Linked DNA regions of Homo sapiens: region 2 is linked to region 1. The links come from fine-mapping of genetic effects on gene expression. Tissue or cell type: whole blood. Region 1 holds a variant in brackets; the other region holds the start of a gene. All regions are shown on one strand. Distances are between the middles of the regions.

Evidence for each region. PIP is the estimated chance that this variant, and not a neighbour inherited with it, causes the effect.
Region 2: it holds the start of FARP2, and the variant in region 1 is fine-mapped to the expression of FARP2 in whole blood (INTERVAL, PIP above 0.99).

Annotation. Positions count from the first base shown.
Region 1 is chr2:241,269,856-241,272,607 of GRCh38, forward strand. The region is part of intron 1 of HDLBP (high density lipoprotein binding protein); the gene reads right to left. It overlaps HDLBP-AS1 (HDLBP antisense RNA 1), which reads left to right and starts at 2,309. Exons shown (of 2, transcript NR_168372.1): 1 at 2,309-2,752. RefSeq lists an enhancer at 2,123-2,202 and a silencer at 2,343-2,652. The variant A/G (reference allele first, on the strand shown) is at 1,138.
Region 2 is chr2:241,354,624-241,357,375 of GRCh38, forward strand. FARP2 (FERM, ARH/RhoGEF and pleckstrin domain protein 2) reads left to right here and starts at 1,662. Exons shown (of 27, transcript NM_014808.4): 1 at 1,662-1,765. RefSeq lists a silencer at 1,450-1,999.

The DNA of each region.
Region 1 (2,752 bases):
CTTGCCTCTGGTCTCCCGCATCCACCCTCCGCCCTCCCACGCTTGCTTGCTGACTCTCACCTGGCATGGTCTCTCACTCAAGGTTGTCCCGGGCTCCAATGTCACTTCTTAAACCCAGACACCCACCCCCTTATCAAGCTAGGTTCTGGGCAAGTCTCTAGTGCCCAGTGACAGCCACACTAGAAGTCTGCAAAATGCAGTTCCGTCCATGTCAGCCCGCACCGACTCTCCAGCACGGAGCTGTGATGAGCCAATCCCCACTGTGCACCCAGTGTCAGTCTCTTCTGAGACCACTCACACACCCTTCAGAAGCCAAGTCCAGCCGGACCCTATACTGAAAGGAGTCTCAACATAAGGGAACCTACTCCTGTGTCTGAGGGAGACCCTGGAGCAGAGCCTCTCATGTTCCTCAGGCGTGCACAGACCCTCAGGCAGCCAGGTAAGGCAGAAGGCAGACCTCCAGAAAACTCCAGACTGGTTTGACAGGCTATACTGGGTCCCTAGCCTCCAGATTCCAAGTGGCAGTTTGTCAGAGCGTGTAACGAATGGTTCACAACTAGAGACACATTTAACATCTAGGGTTCTGGTATCATCAAACAACATTTTGTTTTTCTTCTAAACAACTCAAAAACCTGTTTTCGAAGACTGCGTTTTAAGCAAGCATTTGATGACCCACATGTAAATGCAGACCCTGTCCCCACCTGAAATTCTGGGTGAGATTTTCTTAAAAGTCAGTCTCATTCTCCTTCTGTGCTCCCAATCCAGTGAGGCACAGCCCAGGGGTCCACCTGCCTCTGGTTCAACAAAGCAGCACCTAAGAAGCTGACCCTACAGCCCCATGTCCACCCCGCACTGCTACGCCCTGCTCCTGGCTCTGCCTTCACAGACAACACCCACGAGGGTTTAATCCTGTTCCATGTGGATCTTTCAGCAACCCCAGGACAGCGCCAGGCAACTCCACTTGCTATCTGAAGTTCCCAGGATACCTTGGGCAGGCCTAGATACCCAAGAACAGAGGCTAACATCGGGTATCTCAGATTCTCACTGGATCTAACAGTACTGTCCAAATCAGGATTGAAAGGAACCTCAGATATTAATCTAATCCCATTTCTTAATACCACCAGGGACAGGAAATTC[A/G]TGGCCTTCTCAGGGCCCGGGTCCACCCCTGCATGGCTGTAAACGCTCCACCTCAAGTTATGACAAAATCTACAACTTCTTTCCCCTTTCTGGCCATGGAGAACAAGTCCGCTCTCCTCCAAGGCTCCTTCTGGTAGGTGAGCCCTATCTCCTGTCTCCTTCAGTCCCTCCCATATGGCCCCAGTCCCTTCGTGATTCTGGCTCTCCCAACTACTTTTCCCATAGGAAGCTCGGATCAATCAGTGTCCAGGTCCACCTAATGTAAACCTCAAACTATACTGAACCTGGACTTTTAATTTTGTTTCCCAGAGTGCAAACATCCAAAGCAAAAAAGGTCACATCTCAGAATTTAACTTTCAGCAAACAGAACTAGAACTAAAGGAAGGAGGGCAGGAACCAAGACCCCTTTCCGCCCTAATACGTGTAGAGCAAAACGTGGAGTCCTGACAGAGCTGTGTGTTGCGTGGGAAACCTGGTGCTTACAAGTTTAGCACAAGTCTAACAGGTTTCTGACAGCAACAAAAAAGGCTTCACATGAGGGGTTCTACTTTTTTGCTTTTAAACGAGGAAGTAATTAAGTTGATTCCCTTGTGATAAGTTTTGCCAACTACATATTCAAGGGGCAACAGTCTTCGAAGAGAATTATCAGTAATACTCCAGGAAGAATTTCATTTCAGCCTCAGTTAATGAGACCCGCAAGTGCTTTAAAGCACCAGACAGGACCGGGTATGGAGGGCACCAAAAAAGCCTCCGGCTGAAACCCAGACTTCTCCTCTTCCAAAACTAAAATTACTCAAGACCACAAACCAAAGTTCAGAATGGGAAAATAAAATCCTGATCCACTCAGAGATCACAAGATCGAAATCTAGGAGAGACCACAGGCGACTGGCGAGCAGAAGGCAGGCTCCGCTCCGCACTTCTCACCAAGTTCTGGAAGTCGGCACCCATCCTGCATGGAGGAACTTTCGCAGATGCCACCTCAGCACGGCCCTCCCACAGGCCACGAGGGCCCGCGGGCGGGGACAGGCTTAAAGGGACAGCAACCCCTCGGCCTCCCCGCCTTTCATCCAAATTCGGTACTTTTCCGTAATGTATTTTTCATCCACGACCCTGGGGCACGTCCAAGTTGCACTCCAGGCCCAAGAAGAGCAGCTTTCCCCACCCCCGAACACGTAGACTGACGCGGGCCCCGCGCGGCAGGTGGAGGTGCTGCGGGGGCCCCGCCGCCCGGTCTGCGCCCAGACCCCCGCCCCGCCGCCACCTGGGGGGAAGGACCCCGCTGGCCTCCCAGGGACCCCCACCCTGGCCGCACACGGCGCCCCCGCCGGAGCGGGGGAGGGGAGGGCCGGCCCCGCCAACGTCAGCGACCTGGGCTCAGGTCGGCCGCCCCTCCGCGCCGTGCGGCCACGGCACCAGGGGTGCCCCACCGAAGCCCCGGGAGGAGGCGGGGGAGCCCAGCTTGCAGCCAAGAGCGGCCCAGCGGCGCCACCGGACTTGAGAAAGTTTGTGCGCGCCCCTCCGCGCCACGGCCACGCGCAGAAGAGACTCGGAGCCGGCCCCAGGTCTGGCCCGGAACCGCCACGCGCGGTAAGCAGGACACCCGCGGGCGGGGGCC
Region 2 (2,752 bases), 85 kb after region 1:
CTCTCTCTAGTTCCTCAGCTGACAGCTGCCACGCCTGCTGCCTTCCCTCCAGACTGCCAGCCTCAGGTCACCAGCACACACCCTGCATCCTACCAGGGGTCAGTACCACCCTCTGGCCAGGCTCTCACCTGCACTATCCCCACCCGGCCCTGCCCGTCTGCAGGCAGGGATCCTCTGTTCTGGGGTGTGTGCACCACTCTGGGCCTGGTGGTGTCATTGGGGGTTGGTTAAAGGAAAAGCCCCAGAGGTGGGTGGCACATGAGGGGAGCATCCCGCACAGCTGAGCCCAGTCTTGGTGTGCCTGGGTCTCAGACCCCATAGTTGTCTCAGGAGAAATGGAGGTTCCCCTGAGCCAGCATTTCTCCTGTCTGGGCTTCTGGGAAACGAAGGGTCAGGTTTCACTCTGGAATCCACAGCACCATAGGAGGAGTCTCTTAAGTGCCCGGGTGTTTCCTGAAGTTAATTATTCCCTCAACAGCCACATGGTGACAGTGGGTGACAGGGCCGGGCTAGGAGAGCACGATGGGTAGGGTCTTGAAGAACACATAGGAGTTCAATGAACTTCTCAAGAGAAGGGAAGTGTGCCACAGCAAGTCAGTCTTCCATTCTCGGGTGGGGGTCCCTAGGCCAGAGGAAGGCCGTCCTGGCCGCCACCACGGAGCAGCCTGTCTCAGCCTTAGCACAGCCTCGCGCGATCCTTCGATGATCCCCTTCGGTCCCTGTAGTCCCACGAGGGATGCAATGCGTTGGAGGAAGGAGGAGGCTGGCAGCCAGGGACTGAGCCAAAGGGTGCAAGGACAGCCGGCAAGGCCCGGGCCAAGACCTATCCCCGCCCAGCGAGCCAGGCCTCGCCCAGCACCTATCCGCGCCCAGCAAGCCTAGGCCTCGCCCAGCACCTATCCGCGCCCAGCAAGCCTAGGCCTCGCCCAGCACCTATCCGCGCCCAGCGAGCCTAGACCTCGCCCAAGACCTAGCCCCGCCCAGCGAGCCGACTCCCCGCCCAGGACCTAGCCCCGCCCAGCGAGCCGACTCCCCGCCCAGGACCTAGCCCCGCCCAGCGAGCCGACTCCCCGCCCAGGACCTAGCCCCGCCCAGCGAGCCGACTCCCCGCCCAGGACCTAGCCCCGCCCAGCGAGCCGACTCCCCGCCCAGGACCTAGCCCCGCCCAGCGAGCCGACTCCCCGCCCAGGACCTAGCCCCGCCCAGCGAGCCGACTCCCCGCCCAGGACCTAGCCCCGCCCAGCGAGCCGACTCCCCGCCCAGGACCTAGCCCCGCCCAGCGAGCCGACTCCCCGCCCAGGACCTAGCCCCGCCCAGCGAGCCGACTCCCCGCCCAGGACCTAGCCCCACCCAACGAGCCGACTCCCCGCCCAAGATCTAGCCCCGCCCAGCGAGCCTTGGCTTCGCCTAGGACATTGCCTCGCTCAGCAAGCCGACGCCCCGCCCAACGAGCCGAGCGCTGCACAGATTTATATCCTACGCAGCTGCCTGCCTGCTCCCGCCCCTTCTCCGTCCGTTCACCAATCAGAACTCGATCTTGCGCTTTCAGGCCGCGGGACGGGAAGGCTCCGCCCTGGCGCCCCGCAGGCCAATCGACTGCGCGTCCGCGTCGCGGGGGCGGGGTCAGGGCGGGGCGCGCTGCGCGGGGGCTGCCGGCGGGCAGTTGGGAGCAGGCGACGCCGACGCGAGTCTGGCGGCTGCTGCTTGCGACTGCGGAGGCCGGGCGAGGCCGGTGAGGACGCGGCGGGCGAGCGAGAGGCCGAGGGTGAGGACGTGAAGCGGCCTGGGCGCGTGGGGCAGGGGTGGGCCTCTCCGGGTGGGCGGCGAAGCCCGAGGCCCGAGGCGAGAGGCCCAGGCGGGGGGGGCGCTGAGGCCGCGGTCCACCAGAGATGGTCCCGCCCGGCCTCTGAAGGCCATCGTGAGGCGGCTGGAGCTCCTAGGCGGGTCCGGGTTAGAGGAGCGTCCGTCTGTAGGGAGCCTGCCGCGTGGGGGCAGGCGGGGCGGTGGGCCGGGGAGTGGCCCGCGTGGACTCCCGGGTTGAGGGGTGCCGCGTGGAGGAGGCCGGTGGGGCTGTAGACCGGGGAGTGTCCCGCGTGGACTCGCGGGTTGAGTTGTGCCCCGTGGAGGCCGGCAGGGCCGTGGGCCGGGGAGTGTCCCATCCCGGAAGGACACCCCAGAGTGGGCCATAGGGACCCGCAGGGTATGGGCCTGGAGGTGCCTGGTGGAGGCATTTTGAGCCGTTTGCCTTTTTAGCATTTCTTTAAATTGTATCTTAAAGGTGGGAATCAAGTGTTAGGTGTTAATATTTTTACTCCACTAAGGGCTAGAAATACTCATAAGCCAGTGGGTAGCCTTTGGGAAACCCATGAAAACTGGGGACCAGAATATGGCCCAGTACATTACACACCCGAATTACGGGCACCTTTTCCGTTTACGCTATGGCAGCAACCCCTGGCCTATCATGTGCCATTAATGGATGTGAAAAGCAGAAATTAGAACAAGGCATCATTGAAGGAAAGATTGTCAATACATAGTGTTAAAAAGGGATGGGCAAATTTAAAACCCAAGGCCAAATCTTTAAAGGGTGGTTTTTCTCTCTGGGTTTTTGTTTTTGTTTTGTTTCCGTGGGATATTTTTGTCTGGGCCACTGTGTAAATGTTTGATAACCCTGAGGTGGCAGTGGGTTAGCGTGTTGGTCTTGTGTAGACTGCCTTATAACAGGCGACACAGATTTTCTCAGTACCAGAGAGAT